Linked DNA regions of Homo sapiens. The protein of the gene in region 1 purifies or fractionates together with the protein of each later gene. This does not show direct contact. Each region holds a gene or a part of one and is shown in the gene's direction. Other genes may lie near its edges.

Region 1 (3,500 bases):
GCTTGAATATTTATCAGGAAAAGAGAGCAAGGGCCACCTATATGCCAGGCCAGCTGCCCCAAAGGCCTTACCTCTTTGAGGTCGTATAGAGGAGAAGAGATTTCTTGTCCTCACTCTTTGCTAGGCTGGTGGCTGAGGTCCCTATAACAAAAGACAGCTTAACAGGAGAAAAGCATACAAATTTATTTGGCTTTTAAAAATTTAATTTACTTATTATTATTTTTACATAGAGATGGGGTATCACCATGTCACCCAGGCTACTCTGGAACTACTGGGCTTGGTAATTCTCCCACCTCGGCCTCCCAAAGTGTTGGAATTACAGGCGTGAGCCACTGCGCCTGGCCCAAATTTATTTAATATAAGTTTTACATGACACAGGGGCCTTCAGAAATGAAGACCCAAAGAAATGGGAAAACGTGTGTATTCTTAAACTTTTTAGTTTTTATTATATTGAATTAAATTAAATTATTTATTTATTTATTTTTTGAGACAGGGTCTCACGCTGTCGCCCAGGCTGGAGTGCAGTGGCATGATCTCGGCTCACTGCAACCTCTGACTCCCAGGCTCAAGTGATCCTCTTGCCTCGGCCTCCCGAGTAGCTGGGATTACAGGCATGCACCACCACACCTGGCTAATTTTTTGCATTTGTAGTACAGATGAGGTTTCACCATGTTGCCCAGGCTGGTTTATTATTTTTTAATCATCTAGCCTAAAATGTCAAAAACTTGTGACTTTTTATGCCAAGTTTGATGAAGAAGTATATAGTTGTGGAAGTATTGCACAAAGAGTGTGTGAGCTAATGGTGATACACTTAGGGGAACCTAGCAAGGCCTGTTTGTTCAGATTCTTCTCTGTGTCCTTGCATCTTCAAAGTTAAGGCTGTTTTTTTTTTCTCCAGGTACAAAGACAGCAACTCTCAAATGAGAATCTTATGACCTATTTCAGGGTGAAAGGTGGGAGAAGGTCAGAGTGGGGTGACTATCCTAGGTTTTATGACCTGCTTCTACTGTTTTCTCAAATGTGGCCAAGGTGCCATATTTGGAGAATAGTGTGTCCTGAATTCCATCAGTAAATACTGTTATATTCACCTTACAAATGGGGAAACTGAGGCTCAGAAAGCTCAGGGATGTGCCCAGGCTCACACAGTGGGCTTGTAGCACATCTGGGATTCCAACCCAGGTCTGAGGCCTTAAAGCCTATTCTCAGCCTCACATTTCCCTGAGATCTGTCCTTTGCTGCTGGGAGGCAGCCAAAGGAGGCAGAATCCTGGGCCTTTCCCACAGAGAACAGGTAAAGGAAGGCGGTCCTTGCAGTCAGGCTGGTCTCTGAAACCTTGCTCCTCATCACCCAGACTCAGGTGGTGTGGAGAAGGCTGACTCTACCCATGAAGGGCAGCCCCTTGAAGGGTGAGTCTCTGACTGACCAGATACCTGGGAAACGAAGTTTGTGGCTGACAGACTTTCAGGAACTTGTCTGACTGTCTTATGAGGAGCTGCAGGCAGGTGGCTGACTGACGGCCTGAACGGACAGCTCTCCTGAAAGACAGTAGCCCGCCGGCTGGCTGGCTTACCAGCAGGTGGACACGATGTGCCTGCATGAGTGATCAGCCAAGTGACCGACTGACAGTCAGACACACAGACCCATTGCGGGCCAGCTCGGGCTGTGGGTCCCTAGCCCCTGGAGCCACCTGGCCTACCTGGGACCCCAAAACTTAGCTGCCCACCTGGGAGAGAGAGGGACTGGGTTTTTTAAACTAGGGCCTGGCTCTCTGCCCCAGGTCCCTTCATTCCCGCAGGCAACCGCCTGCCCAGCCCAGGTTCAGTCCCATGGCCGTCCCATCCTCCTGTCAGGGGTGGCCCCTGACAAAGGCCCCACAGCACAGGGCAGGGTCTCAGTGCCCTTCCACAGGAGGACACGCAGTCCTGGACTGGACCATCCTTCCAAGGGGAGTTCCGCCCTGAGTCAGGGAGGCGAAGGTTTGCTGTCAGCGCGTCAGCAGAGACCCCAGCCCACAGGAAAGGCTCGGAGGGGGTGGGCAGCCTGCCTGACAAGCCCCATTCAGTGACCAGCTGACCCCCAATACATGACTCGTGCTCCTCTCAGAACCCGGAGGAATGTGGCCAGTGCTTCCCTCCCCTGCCCAGAGGCACAGGCTGTGGACTTTGCCCTCCACAAACAGCCATATCTCTAAAGGATAAAGTACTCCCAGGAAGGCTTTGAGCCTTGGCAGAAAAGGCTGGGATTGAAGCTTCAGGGAGAGCCAGAGGTGAGGCTGGAGTGGGAGATCACCTGAGGCAGGTGAGCAGGCTCCATGAGTGGGCAGGTGAGAGGCCAGGGGGCTGGAACTGGGGCTAGACAGGCTGGGGCACAGCAAGGATGCCACCAGTATACCCAGGAAGCTAAGTGGAGGGTCCAGGGTCTGGCCTGGAGGCGGGGGCCTCACATTCTGAGCTGGCCCACAGGCTTCCACCCCTCTCCCCCATCCATTCCTTGGGTTTCCTTCAGAGCTGGGGCTCCAGGTCAAGGACTTCTGCTCCCAGCCTCAGCTCCCGCTCTCTCACCTGGTTGGCTTGGCCCCTTGGTGGACTGGCACTGCTACCTATGAAGTGACTTGGCTAGGTTTGGGTGGGCCAAGACAGAGAAAAGCACTGTGCTTCTTCCCCCTGTCAAACTTGTACAAGGAGCATTGAGTGATGTTGAGTTTAACACTTACCTGGGCTTGAGTCCTGGGACCAATGCTAACCAGCAAAGCTAGTTCCTCTGAGCCTGGGTGTCCTTATCAGAAGCATAGAGATAATAAGACACCAAAGGGACGGAGCTGTGGAGAGGGTTCATGGGCCAGTGCACAGAAAGCCTGTGGCATGGAGCCCAGACTACAGCAGGAAACCCACTGCGGCTGGTGAGAGGAGCTGAGGCTCAGAAATGGTCCCCTCCACCTCCTCTGGGAGCCTTTGCTTTGAACTGCCTTATTTCCTCCTTGCCTTTAAAGTGACTCCCACTGAGTGTCCCATGACACTCCTCTTCCCTAGGCCAATTTCCCGTCTCCTCGTCAGGTGTCAGTTTTGTTTCAACAGTTCCTTGCTTCCTCTGAGTGTTTATGCCCCGCAGAGGGACTCCTCCCTAGCCACACGCACTTCCATTTCCTCAGCCAAATTCCTCAACCTGTTTGTATAGACATTTCTCCAAAGCAAGATATACAAATGGCAGTAGGCACATGAAAAGATGCTCAATATCATTAGTCATTAGAAAAATGCAAACCAAAACCACACTGAGATACCACCTCTACCCTATGAGGATGGCTATAATTGAAAAGGCAGACAATGAAAGTATTAGCAAAGATGTAGAGAAATTGGGACATTGCTGGAGGGAGTGTAAAATGGTGTTGCCACTGTGGAAAATGGTTTGGCAGTTCCTCACATGGTTAAACATAGCATTATTGTATATGAACATATGACCCAGCAATTCCGCTCCTAGGTGTACACCCAAGAGAATTGAAAATG
Region 2 (3,500 bases), on another chromosome or scaffold:
ATGGAACAAAGTTTTGACTGCATTTTGACTGTGACCATCGGTCATGTGGAATTTTCCACTTGTAGCATCGTGTCGGTGCCCACAATGTTTTGGATTCTGGAGCATTTCAGATTTTTGGATTAGGAATGTTCAACTTGTAGTAACAAATATCACCCGAGGTCTGAGTGTTAGCCCTGGAGATGGGTTATTCCCCAGAGTCTCACCCTTCCTCCCCTCTACATATGACCAACAAAGTTTGAGCTGATAGCAGTAAACTAGACAAGAATCTAAAATATCTGATTCTAAGAAATTATTTTAGTGACAGCTACAGATTCTATAACAAATACCCCCAAATTCAGAGGCACTTTTAGTAGTAAGAGAAGAGCCAGTCAGTACTGTGACTTTTTTTTAACGTATCTGAACTAAAGTTCAAAGTTCAAAGGACTGTGGTTAGGAAGTATAGCAGCATACCACTTAAAGAGATTAATCTGCACAGAGTAAGAGGAAAATGCATGTCACAATGGAAGAAATAAAAGTGACAACCTCAAAAAAATCGATCTTGGTCATCTGCCTCTCAGATGTTACAAAATAGCAATCAACAAATATTTGCAATAGTTTAAATTCTTAATTCACTTTCTAGTAGTTTCCTAGTAGACTCTTTCTACCCCTCTCTATAATATACTAGTGTTTTTGTTTTGAGTTTCAAAAAGGCAATATTCACCTATTTATATATATTCTCCGTGATTGTTTGAGGCATCAACAGATTTCTAGGTGAAGAAACCAAAATAAATGTTTTCAATTTATGTTAAAAGTTACATTTCTTGGTAAAGGATTTTTCCACACTGGTTTTTATTAAATCAAGCTGTATAACTAGCATCCTGTCCCTAGCCCAGCACCCTGCATGAGGTAGGTGTTCGATTCATGTTTGGCTCTGGTGAGGGGTATACGCTGTCGGAACCCACAGGGTATCACTGAGTCCTAACGAACGATGTAAGTCAAAGTGAACAAAATAGCAAGATTTGTAGAAAAGCTAGAAACTTGGCTATAATCAAGGATGGAGCAATGAGAAATGACCTGGAGAATGGGGGCAGGAGGTTCCTGCAAAGAAAGAAGACAGTAAAAGGCCAGGCAAAGAAGATTCGGTTTTTATAAGAGAAAGGCTGGGGAGGGACCCAAGGTGGTTGTTGAATGATAGATATCATCATCACAGAGTGACTTCTCTAAGAGTTCAAGTCCAAGGCAACCACTGAGAAGGGTATTTTCTTTCACACGCATCTCTTTTAAACCTCTGGTTGAGATTTAAATCATTTTTTATATATATGCAATTTTTAGGAAAAGGAACCTTTCCATTTTTTGCAGCGACCTCTGGTAGGAATAAACTCTCCTCTGGCGTGAAATGAACTCATACTTCCCTGGTACCTACGTATATTGGCAAATTAGCTGTTCCAGGGCGTGAGAGCTGGGAAAAGGGTTCAGCCACCCAGGAGAAATTGTTCTCTCCTCCCTAGCAGTGCTGCCATTGGAAAGAACCTGACTGATCAGGAGGCACTGGGCTTGAGCGGCTTTGAAAGCAAACAAACTTACTGTTGTCTGCAGATGGTAATTTCTTGGTTCTGTTAATTCTGTTGGGGAATGGGGTCCCTTTAGATTTCTATCAGGTGTTAACAAGAGGTAAATGATACGAAAGATCATCTTGGTTTCCCAGACTGAATGGTTTTAAAAGCCTTTTCTGGTGTAAAAGCATTTGAAGGGAAAAAAAATATTGTGGGAAAATGTAATGCCACCCTTTCTTAGCTAAAACAGCTTCATATAAGCAAGTTGTCCGTCAGGAATGAATACATCACAGTAGCATGGACGACAGCGGGTCTATTTGAGACCAGAGCTTGTCGGGGAGGCTGCAGTCCCCTTTGACACACAGCCAGCACTTTCTTCAGCAACTGTATAGAAAGCCTTTTCTGTCGCGGGTATTATTGATCTTCTTAAGGGAGCATAACTCATGCTCTCCACTTTGCATTTACAGGGTGAGCAAATCAGATAGACATTTTCGAAAAGGGCTTTCAAGTACTTCTAAATTAGGCTGGCCATTTAATTTACATATCTCAGATATAAAAGTCTCCATTGTTTGGAATGCATGTGTTCGTGCATAGAAGTTGTTAACCCTGGAATAAAAGATGCCTGTCATAGCTTACATGTTGAACGCTTCCATGGCAAATTACCTATTTTCAGGAGCTGGCAGTATTTTCAGATATTTTCCATCTTAATTAAATCTTATGTTGTTTAGTTTAAAACTGCATTATTCTGTTGTTTCCTGACTTTTTAATGATCGCCATTCTAACTGGTGTGAGATGACATCTCATTGTGGTTTTGATTCGCATTTCTCTAATGAACAGTGATGATGAGCTTTTTTCCATGTGTCTTTTGGCTGCATAAATGTCTTCTTTTGAGAAGTGTCTGTTCATATCCTTCGCCCACTTGTTGATGGGGTTGTTTTTTTCTTGTAAATTTGTTTGAGTTCTTTTTTTTTTTTTTAAGTTTTAGGGTACATGTGCACAACGTGCAGGTTTGTTACATATGTATACATGTGCCATGTTGGTGTGCTGCACCCATTAACTCGTCATTTAGCATTAGGTATATCTCCTAATGCTATCCCTCCCCCTTCCCCCCACCCCATGATAGGCCCCGGTGTGTGATGTTCCCCTTCCTGTGTCCATGTGTTCTCATTGATCAATTCCCACCTATGAGTGAGAACATGCGGTGTTTGGTTTTTTGTCCTTGTGATAGTTTGCTGAGAATGATGGTCTCCAGCTTCATCCATGTCCCTACAAAGGACATGAACTCATCATTTTTTATGGCTGCATAGTATTCCACGGTGTATATGTGCCACATTTTCTTAATCCAGTCTATCATTGTTGGACATTTGGGTTGGTTCCAAGTCTTTGCTATTGTCAATAGTGCTGCAATAAACATACGTGTGCATGTGACTTTATAGCAGCATGATTTATAATCCTTTGCGTATATACCCAGTAATGGAATGGCTGGGTCAAATGGTATTTCTAGTTCTAGATCCCTGAGGAATCGCCACACCCACTTCCACAATGGTTGAACTAGTTTACAGTCCCACCAACAGTGTAAAAGTATTCCTATTTCTCCACATCCTCTCCAGCACCTGTTGTCTCCTGACTTTTTAATGATCGCCATTCTAACTGGTGTGAGATGGTATCTCATTGTGGTTTTGATTTGCATTTCTCTGATGGCCAGTGATGATGAGCATTTTTTCATGTGTTTTTTGGCTGCATAAATATCTTCTTTTGAGAAGTGTCTGTTCATATCCTTCACCCACTTTTTGATGGGGTTGTTTTTTTCTTGTAAATTTGTTTGAGTTCATTGTAGATTCTGGATATTAGCCCTTTGTCAGATGAGTAGGTTGCAAAAATTTTCTCCCATTCTGTAGGTTGCCTAGTCACTCTGATGGTGGTTTATTTTGCTGTGCAGAAGCTCTTGAGTTTAATTAGATCCCATTT

The links.
Region 2: the proteins of SLCO2B1 (region 1) and JPH1 purify together in Homo sapiens (affinity purification with mass spectrometry; one large-scale study listed by BioGRID and IntAct). This does not show direct contact.

Annotation. Positions count from the first base shown.
Region 1 is NC_000011.10:75,157,607-75,161,106, forward strand, and holds part of SLCO2B1 (solute carrier organic anion transporter family member 2B1), read left to right. Parts: intron 1-2,225; exon of another isoform or gene 2,226-2,323; intron 2,324-3,500. UniProt on the Homo sapiens protein: Mediates the Na(+)-independent transport of steroid sulfate conjugates and other specific organic anions.
Region 2 is NC_000008.11:74,255,541-74,259,040, reverse strand, and holds part of JPH1 (junctophilin-1), read left to right. Parts: intron 1-3,500. UniProt on the Homo sapiens protein: Junctophilins contribute to the formation of junctional membrane complexes (JMCs) which link the plasma membrane with the endoplasmic or sarcoplasmic reticulum in excitable cells.